Linked DNA regions of Homo sapiens: region 1 is linked to region 2. The links come from fine-mapping of genetic effects on gene expression. Tissue or cell type: whole blood. Region 2 holds a variant in brackets; the other region holds the start of a gene. All regions are shown on one strand. Distances are between the middles of the regions.

Region 1 (6,484 bases), 80 kb after region 2:
AAGAAGACCATCCAGGGCGATGAGGAGGACCTGCGCTAAGCCCCACCCAGCCCCCCAGTGCCCGTCTTCCTGTCCCATCTGCTCAGAGAGAGGTGGGGCCGAGACTTGCTGGAGAGCTTCCCTCCTTTCCCATCTGGGGAGTGCCGCGGGCCACAGTGGGCAGGTGGCACCGGGGGTCAGCATGCAGGGGCGCCAGAGGCCCAGGCTGCTGGCCGGACAGTCACCCTCTGTTCTCGCTACATCCCTTGCCCCCTGTCCATTTATTTAAGCCCCCATAGGTGCCCTTCACCCCCAAAACCAGCTGTACAGAATCTTTGATACAGACCTATTTGCTAGGGGTGCTGCCGGGGATTTGGGGTCAGCATCTGGCCCCCTATCTCCTGACCAGCTGAGTCATGAGGCCGGTTTCTCTCTCTCTCCCACTTTTGTCCCCCAGCCAAGCTCTAAAGCACATGTAGCCGCTGAGACCTGCTGTTTCTGCTGGGGGCAGGCTCCTCTTCCCCCAGCCCCGGGAGCCTCCCCCAGCTTCCTGCAGCCCCGACCTCTCAGGTTAGACCCTGGGCCCTGGAGCTTAGGGGATTCTCCCCACCCCAGCCCCACACCTGCTCCTTCCCTAATGCTTTGAGGTTTTCTTGGTTGGAAGCTGCAGCTGGCCCAAGAAAGAAAATAAAAAACAACACTTTTGCATGAGTCTCTCTTCCTCCTCACCTCTGCTACCCACTCTGCCCCTGGGCCAGTCACCAGTCCCTCTCACACTCCTGGTCCCCCAGACTCTGGGCGAGCTCTTGGGAGGTCAGGCGCATGCATCCTTGAAACACGTGTGGGCTGGGTCAGTTTCTAGGTGGGGGAGACCCAGGGACGGTGGGCCTGGGGAGGAGCTCTGGCTTGGGAGTCCCAGAGCGCCCATCTTGATCTTTCTCTGGGTTCTTGGGGTCCAGGGGCCTTGATTTCCTCAACTGGGATGCACGGTGGTGATGCCACCCCTCAGAGCCAGTGGGAGGGTCGAATGTGACGGTCCTCATGACTGCTTTGGATGAGAATGGGTGGAAGCCCACCGAATCTCCCATGTCCACATTTCTCTGGCAGGAAGGCTGAACGCCCCGGTGACAGTTGTTCCATCTGTCACAGGACGGGGGAGGAAGCGGCTTTGGTGGGCAGAGTCTGAGGCCCGAGTGGGTCTGGGGAGTGGGGGAGGAGATAGCAGGAGCCTTTGCCCAGGAAAGGTGGGCAGAAACCAGCTGCCTCCACCACACTCCACAATGTGCATGTTGGGGGCCCTGTCTGGTACACATGTGCTTTACCCTGCCCCGCGCAGGGCCCCTCGCTACAGAGGAGACAGCTGAAGGAGGCTCAGTGCCCAGGCATGATGGGAAAATGTCAGGAAGTGAGCAGGGGCAGTAATTGCACAGAGGAGGGGCTGCCTAGGAAACCAGGGTGGACTCCTGGGAGAGGGGCTCCAGCCCAGAAAGCCTAGAGAAGTGCAGGTGAGGTTCAAATTCCTTGACACCTGCCCTGCTCCTCTCTCCCCTGCAGCTTCTCCCACAGCTCCAGTCCACTGATAATGGCAGCAAAGACTTCTGAGACCTGAAATTGATTACCATGTCTGCCCCCATCATGGGTGCTGGCTGAAGGATAGTGTGAGAATCTGTTTCTGTCATCCATGACCTAAATCAGTGATGGTCCGCCCTGGCTATGCTTTAAAGTCATTAAAAGTATCCAGACTTGGGGCTGGGTGCTGTGGCTCATGCCTGTAATCGTAGCACTTTGGGAGGCCGAGGCAGGCGGATCACTTGAGGTCAAGAGTTCGAGAGCAGCCTAGCCAACATGGCAAAACCCTGTCTCTGCTAGAAATACAAAAATTAGGCATGATGGTGCAAAAATAAAAGTATCCAGACTGGGGCCGCACTCTGATAAATTGTGGTTTGACTGAGGTTTCCTACCCTTTGGGGGTTTTTGGGTTTGTTTTTTTTTTGAGACAGAGTCTCGCTCTATCGCCCAGGCTGGAGTGCAGTGGTGCGATCTTGGTTCACTGCAACCTCTGCCTCCCGGGTTCAAGCGATTCTCCTGCCTCAGTCTCCCGAGTAGCTGGGATTACAAGCGTGCGCCACCACGCCCAGCTAATTTTTGTATTTTTAGCAGAGACAGCGTTTCACCATGTTGGCCAGGCTGGTCTCAAACTCCTGACCTCAGTTGATCCGCCTGCCTCAGCTTCCAAAGTTCTGGAATTACAGGCATGAGCCACCAGGCCCGGCCTGTTTTGGTTTGTTTTGTTAAAACTTCATAGGCAGTTCAAGTGTGCAGCTAGGATTGGAAACCTCTTAACAGGATGATTCCTTCCTAACCTGTAACTTCATTTTTTCATTCATCCGCTCAACATGTGGCTTATAGGTTACTAGGGCGGGAAGACGCCTGAAGGAAACGCACTGCTGAAGTGGCACTAGACCCACGTGCCACTCCCTCAGCGAATATTCACTAAGCACCTGCTGCATGCCAGGCCCTGGGAATACAGCAGCACTGACGGCATTCCCAGACTGCCCTCCAGGAACTTCTACTCTCCACATCCAGAAATCTGGAATCATCACAAATTCCTTGCCACCTCCGTTATCCAGTCTGCCTTTGAGAACTTTCCATCATGTAAGAGCTGTCTCTTACATGCTCAGCACATAGTTTGTGATTTTTGACACATATTTTCTGAATGCCTGCTTTGTGTCAGGCCTTGTGTTCCAGGTACAGGCGATAAGGCCGTGATCAAGGGAGATCAGCCTGCTGCCTTCATGGAGCTTGCAGTCTGTGTGTGCTCGAGGTGTCCAGGACAGCTGGCCAACCCATGTCTTCTGGAAATGATACACAGATGTGCACATAGTACCCAAACCTCCATGGCCTTCTAGGGACAAAGCAGCACAGACAGGAACCCCTGAAGGCCCCAGAGTCGGAAACACCTGGTTTACATCCTGTCCCCACCACTTGCTAGCATATCAGTCAGTGGACTTACTCTTTCTGAGCCTCCATTTGATTCTCTCTAAACTGGGATAATAAACCTCTTTGTAGAGGTTTCTTTCTTGCAAAGATTAGTGAGACAGATTTGCAAAGGACGTCCGGGCACATAGTAAAAGCTCAATGAATCCTGAATAAGTGAACCGGCAGGGAGGGTAACAGTAGGCCCTTGCAGAACAGTTGTAAGGAATCAGATTATCAGAGCCAGCATGACTGTCACCAAGTAGGTGTTCGATAAAGGAGGTGGTTATTATAGCTGGATCATTTTTCCTTGGGGGCAAGAAGAATGTATTAATTATTTTAAAGGTGATACTGTTAAGATTATGAACTATAGGCCGGGCAAGGGGGCTCACGCCTATAATCCTAGCACTTTGGGAGGCCGAGGTGGGCGGATCACCTGAGGTCAGGAGGTCCAGACCAGCCTGGGCAACATGGCGAAACCCCATCTCTACTAAAAATAGAAAAACTAGCCAGGTGTGGTGGCGCCTGTAATCCCAGCTGCTGGGAGGCTGAGGCAGGAGAATCGCTTGAACCCAGGAGGCAGAGGTTGCAGTGAGCCGAGATCGCACCACTGCACTCCAGGGTGACAGAGCAAGACTCCGTCTCAAAAAAAAAAAAAAAAAAAATAGTGAACTGTGGAGTTACCTTGTTTGGTTTCCAGTACTGACCGCTCGTTACTAGCTGTGTGATCTTAGGCAAGTTACTTTACCCCTCTGTGCCTCAATTCCTTCATCTCTAAAATGGATTTAAGTACCTACCTCCACCCCCTTGCGAATTTTTAATAAAGTATTAGATGGAATGCACTTACAGTAGTTCCTGGCACATAAGGGCAATATTAAGTTTTATGATGATGATGATTCGACCTTCCACACAGCATACAGCGAGAGGCCGTGGCCACCACCTCCCATCTCTAGTCACAGACTCCTTATGGCAGCCCCTTGGTCCAGAAATGGAAAGGAGAAGAGAGCGCGGGCGCAGTGGGGCAAAGTCGCCTGGGAGGCCCGAGCAGGCGACCTGGCCGCCATCTTGGGAGAGGGCAACGCCGGCAGCTTCCGTACGTCATCAGCCCGCGCAACGGCCGGGCACCCGGCGGTTCAGGTCGCTTAGAGAGTCGTAGGTTGGGTAGTGCGGGTTGGGGCGGGGGCTGCGGAGAGGGTGCTTAACTGAGGGGCATGATGGGGGAGGCGGCCGTGGCCGCGGGGCCTTGTCCGTTGCGCGAGGACAGCTTCACGCGCTTCTCGTCGCAGAGCAATGTGTACGGGCTGGCAGGCGGCGCCGGCGGGCGCGGGGAGCTGCTGGCCGCCACCCTTAAAGGCAAGGTGCTCGGCTTCCGCTACCAAGACCTCCGACAGAAAATCCGGCCAGTGGCCAAGGAGCTGCAGTTCAACTACATTCCCGGTGGGTGGCGCTATGGTGCTGGGGGGCGGGGGCCTGGAACGTGGTGTTGAGAAGGCTTCTGAGGCTCTGTCTGAGCCGGGTCACCGTGCTGGAAGAATGGGATCAGGTGGTTTTAAGGGGGTCACTGGGATCAGCGGGCAGGCATAGTTGGGGCCCGGATGAGCCTAGGGTTTCAGGATTCTTCAGACTTACAGGTCAGGATCCCTAGTACCCAGGGAACAGAGATCAGGTGATGGTGGTCAGGACTCAGACCAGAGGGCATGATCATTGCGGTAGCCAGAGCTCACCATGTTGGGGAGATTGGAAGCATGAGTCTGCCTGACACTGAACTTAGAACTCTCCCCTCCCAGTGGATGCGGAGATTGTCTCCATCGACACTTTCAACAAGTCACCCCCCAAGCGGGGTCTGGTTGTGGGGATCACGTTCATCAAGGTACCTAGAGCCCCCTCCACCTCCCTTCGCCCTCCTCCTTACACACATGGTGAGTTCCACTGAGCCGCCCCGGATCCCTCCTGCCACCCCTGCCCTCCCCTGAACCCCGTGTCCTCCGCCAGGATTCAGGGGACAAGGGCAGCCCCTTCCTGAACATTTACTGCGACTACGAGCCCGGCTCTGAGTACAACCTTGACTCTATTGCCCGTGAGTGAGGCGTGGACGGGAGGAGGGAGAGAGTCCCCAGCAGGTCCCCCATGCTAACCTGCCTGTGCCCTGCCTACAGAGAGCTGCCTGAACCTGGAGCTCCAGTTCACTCCGTTCCAGCTGTGCCATGCGGAGTGAGTGTCCCCTGCGCATCGACGCCCACTCCACTGTAAATGTAGAAACCCTGGCTTCTCGAACCCCTTCTTTACTTACAGACCCCTGTAGTCTGTTTCCCCTTCTGGAAAATAAAGAGGTTGTACTAGATTAGGGATTGAAAACTAAAATGCCAGCCGGGCACGGTGGCTCACACCTGTAATCCCAGCACTTTGAGAGGCTGAGGCAGACGGATCACCTGAGGTCAGGAGTTTGAGACCAGCCTGGCCAACATGGCGAAACCCCGTCTCTACTAAAAATACAAAAATTAGCTGGGCATGGTGGTGTGTGCCTGTAATCCCAGCCTACTCAGGAGGCTGAGGCAGGAGAATCACTTGAACCCGGGAGGCGGAGGTTGCAGTGAGCCAAGATTGCACCACAGCACTCCAACCTGGGTGACAAGAGCGAAACTCTGTCTCAAAAATAAATAAATAAAATAAAATGAAATTAAACTAAAATGCCTTTGGGGACCAGAGAGGTCATGTGAGAATGGAAAGCACAAATGTAATATAACAGGGAGCACATGTGCACACACACATATGCAGCTGAGGTTGGAAAGCTGTAGCTAACTGGAGACCACGAACTTGTCCATAGACAATCAGATTCTACATTTGTTTTTTAAAGCATTGCACTTTTTTTTTCTTTCTTTTTTTTTTTTTTTGAGATAGATGCTCGCTCTGTTGCCAGGCTGGAGTGCAGTGGCTCGATCTCTGCAACCTCTACCTCCCTGGTTCAAGTGATTCTACTGCCTCAGCCTCCTGAGTAGCTAGGATTACAGGCTCACACCACCATGCCCGGCTAATTTTTGTATTTTTAGTATAGATAGGTTTTTGCCATGTTGGCCAGGCTAGTCTCGAACTCCTGACCTCAGGTGATCCGCCCGCCTTGGCCTCCCAAAGTGCTGGGATTACAGGCGTGAGCCACCACGCCTGGCCGGAGCATCATGCTTTTAAGGTGGCCATGGACCGGATGGCCAAGGGGCCACCACACTGCCATTCCTGAACTAGATAATCTGAGAGAGTTGATGGAGCACCTGTGAATTCTGGGAATTCTGCACATCTAGAATTCCCAGATTCTAATGTTCTAGAGTCTGACATTCCAAGATCAGAGATGCTAAGTTTTCTAGAGTCGTAGGCTCTAAGATTCCAACATTTGAATATTCTACAGTACGATAGAAGCCAGAATCTTCTGAGGTTCTGTAATGATAAAGTCCTGACATTCTCATCTTTCGAGGAGATAGAACATAGAGCATCTAGAATACCAAGGTGCTAGAACCCCAAAGTGTGTGGGTTCCATTCT
Region 2 (8,118 bases):
AAGGCCACGCCATTGCACTCCAGCCTGAGTGACAGAGAGAGACTTCAACTCAGGAAAACAAAAAAAATTGGAGTAGGAAAGTAAGGAAGGAAATTGCAGGCCGGGTGCAGTGGCTTGCACCTGTAATACCAGCACTTTGGGAGGCTGAGGCAGGTGGATTGCTTGACGGCAGGAGGTCGAGGCCAGCCTGGCCAACATGGCAAAACCCTGTCTCTATTAAAAATACAAAAATTAGCCAGGTGTGGTGGCACATGCTTGTAAACCCAGCTACTCGGGTGGCTGAGATGGGAGAATCGCTTGAATCCGCGAGGTGGAGGTTCAGTGAGCCGAGATCACGCCACTGCACTCCAGTCTGGGCGACAGAGTAAGACCCTGTCTCAAAAAATAAAATAAAATAAAATGAAGGAAATTGCATAGCTAGGGTGAAAGCTGCAAGTCTGTCTGCTCAACTCCCAGGAACCTGCTGTTACTCAGACTTGATGACCCTTTCCCTGGTAACATGGATGCAGGGAGAGAAGGGAGAAGGTGGTGCTTAGGAGGTGGGGGGTGTGGTGGCAGAACAGTGGTTGGAGCTTTTCAAAGAGGAAAAGAGGTGGCACAATGGAATTCTGTCACTCATGAATGAAAAGGATGCTCAGAGCCTTCTGTGATCAAAGTTCTGTGCTAGGCAAGATACTGTGAGAAGTTTAGACACCTAAGGCCGAGTCCCAGCCATCCTAGAGCTGAGAGTCTGGAGAAAATGGGAGAACTTTAAAGATAATTAACTTCCTAGATAATTTAGAGTAAATGTTAAGTGGATTGTTACACAAGTGCTTGTCAGGGTTCAGAGGAGGGAGAAATTAATCTCAGACTTTGTTATGTTGGAAGTGTTCTCTATAGTGGAGGTGACATTTAAGCCTGAGTTTGGAGGGTTTCATTTGGAGGGTCATAAACTCAGATGCCTCCAGAGGCCTGGCAGGGCACAGAAATCAGTGAGCTGAGAGAATAGGGAGTGGTGGGGGCTTCTCACCTCCAACCAATTGTTGCCTTGCAGGAATGTGGACTCAGCATTGGCAGATCTTCTGATTTTTTCTTTCACATTTTTAAATAGAAGTTGGAAAGCCTAACTTGAATGAGAAATCCCTAGATTTGCACCATCTGATATGGTAGCCATTAGCCGCTTGTACCTGTTTAAATTTAACTGGCCAGGCGCGGTGGCGCACGCCTGTAATCCCAGCGCTTTGGGAAGCCGAGGAGGGCGGATCATTTGAGGTAAGGAGTTCGAGACCCAGCTTAGCCAACATGGTGAAACCCCATCTCTACTAAAAATACAAAAATTAGCTGGGCATGATGGCGGGCGCCTGTAATCCCCAGCTACTCAGGAGGCTGAGGCAGGAGAATCACTTGAGCCCAGGAGGTGGAGGTTGCAGTGAACTGAGATTGCACCACTACACTCCAGCCTGGGTGACACAGTGAGACTCTGTCTCTAAATAAATAAATAAATAAATAAATTTAACTAAACTTAAATAAAATAAAGAGTTTAGTTCCTCAAGGGTGTTAGCTGCATTTCTGTGTATGTGGCTAAAGACTGCAGTATTGGGCAGTGCAGGCTTAGTAGCACAGAAAGTGCTTTTGGATAGTGATGCTCTAGTGCTCTATCCATCTATTTTTCTATTATTTATTTTATTTTATTTATTTATTTATTTATTTTTGAGATGGAGTCTCGCTCTGTGGCCCAGGCTGGAGTGCAGCGGCCTGATCTTGGCTCACTGCAAGCTCCGCCTCCCGGGTTCATGCCATTCTCCTGCCTCAGCCTCCCGAGTAGCTGGGACTACAGGCACCCGCCACCACGCCTGGCTAATTTTTTGTATTTTTAGTAAAGACGGGGTTTCACCATGTTAGCCAGGATGGTCTCAATCTCCTGACCTTGTGATCCGCCCGCCTCAGCCTCCCAAAGTGCTGGGATTACAGGTGTGAGCCACCGCACCTGGCCTTATTTTATTTATTTATTTATTTTTGAGATGGAGTCTGGCTTTGTCACCAGGATGGAGTGCAGTGGCATGATCTTGGCTCACTGCAACCTCCGCCTCCCAAGTTCAAGCAATTCTCCTGCCTCAGCCTCCTGAGTAGCTGGTACTACAGGTGAGTGCCACTATGCCGAGCTAATTTTTGTAGTTTTGGTAGAGATGGGGTTTCACTATATTGGTCAGGCTGGTCTTGAACTCCTGACCTCAGGTGATCTGCCTGCCTCAGCTGTCCAAAGTGGTGGGATTATAGGTGTGAGCCACCATACCTGGCCCCATCTATTCTTTAACTGGATAACTAATGGAAACATATTTAAATATATTGCAGACTAAATAAAATATATTTGTAAATCAGATGGGCATTCAGATTGTTCCCTCCCCTCCAAACAACACACATAGTAAATATTATTTATCTATTGTGGACTTACTTCTACAGTCTAGAATCTCATGGTAGGTTACCTTCCCAAAAGGTCGTAGCATTTCATAGAAGAATCCTTTGTTTCCCCTCACCCCCACCAGTCATGGAATGATGGCCCCTTTAAATTTTATTTTATTTTTTTTTGAGATGGAGTCTCACTCTGTCACCCAGGCTGGAGTGCAGTGGCACAATCTTGGCTCACTGCAACCTCCGCCTCCCGGGTCCAAGAGATTCTTGGGCCTCAGCCTCCTGAGTAGCTGGGGTTACAGGCACCCACCACCATGCGCGGCTAATTTTTGTATTTTTAGTAGAGACGGGGTTTCGCCATGTTGGCCAGTCTGGTCTCGAACTCCTGACCTCAAGTGATCCGCACACCTCAGCTTCCCAAAATGCTGGGATTACAGACGTGAGCCACTGCGCTGGGCTGATAGCATTTTTTTAAAAGAAAAAAAATTAAAATTGCTTCGGATCCCCAATGTTGACTTAAATTGTTTTAAAACTATTAAGGCATCAGTGATGATAGAACAAGACATAAGTTCCTAAAGTGTATAGCTCCTGTGCAGCTATAAAGCCAAAATCAATTTGCAAATTAAATATAAACAAAGCAACCAAACCGATTTAATTTAATGAGAGGGATACCATTTCCTGAAACTTACCTGCTCCTTGAAACAATTACTTTGCCGACTGCCACTCTGGGCCCTTTTGGGTTTAGCAGGCCCTGTGAGGTCTCAATTCTCCCATCCCTTGTCTCAATTTGAACTGCAGCAAAACTTCCATTTGTACCGTGATGCCAGCTGGCCTCTAGTAGAGCCCGAAGGCATTATTATGAACTAAATCCCCCTCCATCCTCTTCTTTTTAGCCTGAAGCAATTAAGTAGTCCTTTTTGGCATGAGTGCAATCATAAACACACCCAGGCATTGAAACCACATGGTAGTACTCGGTTACAAGGGAGTCCTCTAATGATCCAGATGTACTGGGTTTTTCTTTTCTTTTTTCTTTTTTTAGTTTTTTATTTCCATAGATTTTGGGGGAACAGGTGGTACTCGGTTATATGAGTAAGTTCTTTAGTGGTGATTTGTAAGATTTTAGTGTACCCATCACCCAAGCAGTATACATTGAACCCAATTTGTAGTCTTTTATCCCTCATCCCCTCCCACCCTTTCCCCCCAAGTCCCCAAAGTCCATTGTATCATTCTTATGCCTTTAATCCTCATAGCTTAGCTCTCACTTACAAAGTGAGAACATACGATGTTTGATTTTCCATTCCTGAGTTACTTCACTTAGAAGAATAATAGTCTCCAGTTCAATCCAGGTTGCTGTGAATGCCATTATTTCGTTCCTTTTTATGGCTGAGTAGTATTCCATCATATATATATTTCTTTATCCACTCCTTGATTGATGGTGGGCATTTGGGCTGGTTCCGTATTTTTGGAATTGCAAATTATGCTGCTCTAAACATGCATGTGCAAGTATCTTTTTC[T/G]TATAATGACTTCTTTTCCTCTGGGTAGATACCCAGGAGTGAGATTGCTGGATCAAATGGTAGTTCCACTTTTTGTTCTTTAAGGAATGTCCACACTGTTTTCTATAGTGGCTGTACTAGTTTACATTCCCACCAGCAGTGTAGAAAGGTTTCTTGTTCACCGCATCCATGCCAACATCTGTTATTTTTTTATTTTTTGATTACGGCCATTCTTGCAGGAGTAAGGTGGTATCCCATTGTGGTTCTGATTTGCATTTCCCTGATCGTTAGTGATGTTGAGCATTTAAATGAAAACACAAAATGATAAAATTCTTGGAAAGAGTATTTGGGTCCTTGGGAATGTCTGCCGGGTTGCAGGAGACCATAAACTCTGCCTCGTAAGGGCTAGCAGAGAGTTTTGTACCTAGAAGGTGCTAAAACTCTTGTTGAATTGAATGTATTTGTTGACAGAATAAAAGGAAGCTCAGTATCGGTAGAGAGGGTTTTGCTTTACTGTCTGGAGAAGGATGTAAATATCAAGGCATGGCCTTTGGACTTTTGGCTTGCCTGTCTGAGGTTGTAACCTGACCAGTTTGTTCTGTGGACTATGGGAGTATATTGGAAAGCAGGTGATTTGGCCTTGGGGAGTCCAGAGACATTCTTCCCCCTGACCCAGCACCTTATGTGTTTTGTAGTTTAATTGGAGCAGTGCAGTATACAGTTCAGTTTATAGGGAATCAGTACTGTGTAATGGGCAAGACCATTAGCGCTAATGTCAGAGTATCTGGGTTTAAGATCTGGCTGTTGGGTTTTGACTTTGGACAAATTAGTCTCTCTTATTTGTAAAAGGGAAGTAATACTACAATCTAGGTTTTTGTGAGAAGTAAGTTAATGCATATAAAGCACTTGGTATGATACCCGATGTGGAGAAAGTGCTTAATAAATACGATTTTTAGGCCAGGCGCGGGGGCTTATGCCTGTAATCCCAGCACTTTGGGAGGCCGAGGCGGGTGGATCACCTGAGGTCAGGAGTTTGAGACCAGCCTGACCAGCGTGGTGAAACCCTATCTCTACTAAAAGTACAAAAATTTGCCAGGCGTGGTGGTGAGTGCCTGTAATCCCAGGTACTGGGAGGCTGAGACAAGAGAATTGCTTGAACCCAGGAGGCAGAGGTTGCAGTGAGCCGAGATTGCACCACTGCACTCTAGCCTAGGGGACACAGCAAGACTTCGTCTCAAAAAATATATATGTGATTTTTATTCACTTGTTTTTATTATTGGGAGATGCAGGGGGAGATGGGTTTTTCCCCTCATAGAGTGGTGAAAACAGTTTATAGCAGCACTGTAGCAGACACTGTGGAACTGGTGAAATTTGAATTTGGCTTACAGATCCACACTCCTCTCCCTGATTTTTTGGAAACCCAAAAAGCTCTGAGAATCCTGAGGCATCTCGAATATCATCTGGTGGCCAAACCTGACCCTACATGTTGCTTTTCACAGCCTTTATTTCACGTACGCTGAGTGGTCATAGGCAATGATGCAGAAATAATTATTTGGTTACCAGGTACTGCCTTGAACCCCACTGGAAGTTACTTAAAATACGGGGTATGCATTGATTTACACTTCTAAAACCCCCTCAAATTCTGAAACTCAGTTGGGTCTCAGAGTTGTATATGGGATTACGTACCTGTATGTGACTTTAAATTTGTGCTGCCTCAATAGGCTGCATACACGCAGACAGGCAGGTAGACATATAACATGCAATGCAGACATTGCAGGTGCAGAGGTTCTATTACATATCAACATGAAAAGTTCTTAGAAAGTAGAAACTGGTGGCCTAGAAATCTAGTCCCAAACTCCCGTTATTCAAGTATGCACTAGATTTGTTATTCAGTGAGTCATGAAGCATTTCTTTAACATCTAGGTGTGAGCAGAATTATTCACAATAGCCCCCAAATGGAAGTAACCCAAATGTTCATCAACAGGAGAGTGGTTAAACAAAATGTGGTCTCTCCAGACAGGGGAACATTATTTAGCCCTGGAAAGAAATGGAGCAGTGACACGTGCTGCAATGGGGGTGAACCTTGAAAACACTGTGCTTAGTGAAAGAAGCCAGACACAGAAGGCCACAGGTCATCTGATTCCATTTGTGTGAGACAGATGGCCATCTGAAGGGGCTATGCTTTTTTGTTTTCATGACTCATAATTTTTTGCTGAAAAACTCGATCTCTCATTTTTCTCAAGCTTCCATGATTCGAAAACTGGACATTTTATCTGTTTGGTTTTTTTTGTTTTGTTTTTTGTTTTTAGTTTTTTTTGAAATGGAGTCTCAGTCTGTCACCCAGGCTGGAGTGCAGTGGCACAATCTCAACTCACTGCAGACTCCATCTCCCGGGTTCAAGCGATTCTCCTGCCTCAGCTTCCTGAGTAGCTGGCATTACAGGCACACACCACCACGCCCAGCTAATTTTTGTATTTTTAGTAGAGATGGCGTTTCACCATGTTGGCCAGGCTGGTCTTGAACTCCTGACCTCAAGTGATCCGCCCTCCCGGACCTCCCAAAGTGCAGGGGTTACAGGCATGAGCCAGCGCGCCTGGCCTGTTTTTGTTTTTTTTGGGGAGACAGTCTCTGTCGCCCAGGCTGGAGTGCAGTGGCACGATCTTGGCTCACTGCAGCCTCCACCTCCCGAGTTCAAGCGATTCTCCTGCCTCAGCCTCCCGTGTAGCTGGGATTGCAGGTGCCTGCCACCACAGCCAGCTAATTTTTATATTTTTAGTAGGGACGGGGGTTCGCCATGTTGGCCAGGCCAGTCTTGAACTCCTGACCTCAGGTGATCCACCCGCCTCGGCCTCCCAAAATGCTGGGATTACAGGCGTGAGCCACTGCACCCAGCCTGTAAACTGGATATTTTGCATATTGCAGTCTGGTAACTCTGGGAATGGGATTCTTCCTTTCTTCCCTGTCCTCAGGCTTGGTTGTTTCTGCTTATTGTGGGTTGTAACTGTTTGTTTAGTGGCTTTTCTAAGCTATTTTTGTAAAGATTGTGTTCTTTGTGGGGTGTGGTCAGTAGTCTGTTCTGTTAGTTTAGTGGTCAGCTAGTGACTTAACAGAGATCTTCTTAAACTCCTGGAGCTAAAAAAAAAACAAAACAGAAAACAAAAAACAAAAAGCTCCCAGTAGTTGCAGCGGGGCACTGCTTCCACACTCAGGCAGGCGGTTAACAACCCTACCTTCGCCTTCACTCTCTGCCTGCACAGAGCGAAGGTCAGCCAGAGGTGAGAGCTTGGAAGCCTTCTCTGGTCCTTTCCAAACATGTGCCCACCCTGAGATGCCACCTTCTAAATTCCCAGGAATATGTGGAAGCTCTTTTTTTATTCATTTGGATTTTTTAATTTTTTTAATACTTAATTAATTAATTATTTTGAGACAGGGTATCACTTTGTTGCCCAGGCTGGAGTGCAGTGGCGCAATCATAGCTCAATGAAGCCTCCAATTCTTGGGCTCAAGCGATTCACCCTCCTCAGCCTCCCAAGTAGCTGAAACCACAAGCATGTGCCACCATGCCCAGCTAATTAAAAAAAAATTTTTTTTCATAGAGACAGGGTCTGACTTTGTCAAACTCCTGGGCCAAAGTGCTGGGATTACAGGTGTGAGCCACCACACCCAGCCAGAGCTCAGTCTCTGTGTTGTATAGTTCTGTGGGTTTTGACTATGGTATAATGTCAGGTATGCAGCATTAGATTATCATGCAAAATAGTTTCACTCCTCACCCCACAAACCACACAACTGCTGGTCTTTTTATTGTCTCTATAGTTTTGCCTTTTCCAGAATGTGATATAGTTGGAGTCTCACAGTATGTAGTCTTGTCTTTCTTTTTTTTCGGTATGTAATCTTTTCATACTGGCTTCCTTCACTTAGCAATGTGCATTTAAGGTTCCTCCATGTCATTGTGTGGTTTGATAGCTTATTGCTTTTTATTCCTGAAGAACATTCCATTGTCTGGATGTTCCACAGTTTGTTGATCCATTCACCTATTGAGGGATGTCTTGATTGCTTCCAGTTTTGGGCAGTTATGAACAAAGCTGCTATAAACATGTGTGTGCAGGCTTTTGTGTGGACTGAAGTTTTCAGCTCAGTTGGATGGATGCCTAAGAGTGTAGTTGCTGGATTGCATGATAAGATTTTATACATATATATATTACAATCATCAAATAGATGCAGAAAAAAACTATGTGTA

Evidence for each region. PIP is the estimated chance that this variant, and not a neighbour inherited with it, causes the effect.
Region 1: NAPA-AS1 starts here. The variant in region 2 is fine-mapped to the expression of NAPA-AS1 in whole blood (TOPMed, PIP above 0.99).

The regions. Positions count from the first base shown.
Region 1 is chr19:47,481,843-47,488,326 of GRCh38, reverse strand. NAPA-AS1 (NAPA antisense RNA 1) reads right to left here and starts at 4,045. Exons shown (of 4, transcript NR_038452.1): 1 at 3,803-4,045. KPTN (kaptin, actin binding protein) reads left to right here and starts at 4,108. Exons shown (of 12, transcript NM_007059.4): 1 at 4,108-4,392; 2 at 4,743-4,825; 3 at 4,948-5,032; 4 at 5,112-5,166. The coding sequence starts at 4,167. NAPA (NSF attachment protein alpha) reads left to right here. Exons shown (of 11, transcript NM_003827.4): 11 at 1-690. The coding sequence ends at 39. RefSeq lists enhancers at 3,734-3,863, 3,894-4,183.
Region 2 is chr19:47,560,624-47,568,741 of GRCh38, reverse strand. All of the region lies in intron 2 of ZNF541 (zinc finger protein 541), which reads left to right. Among named protein-coding and RNA genes, the nearest start is that of ZNF541, 8.5 kb to the left of the region's middle. The variant T/G (reference allele first, on the strand shown) is at 3,903.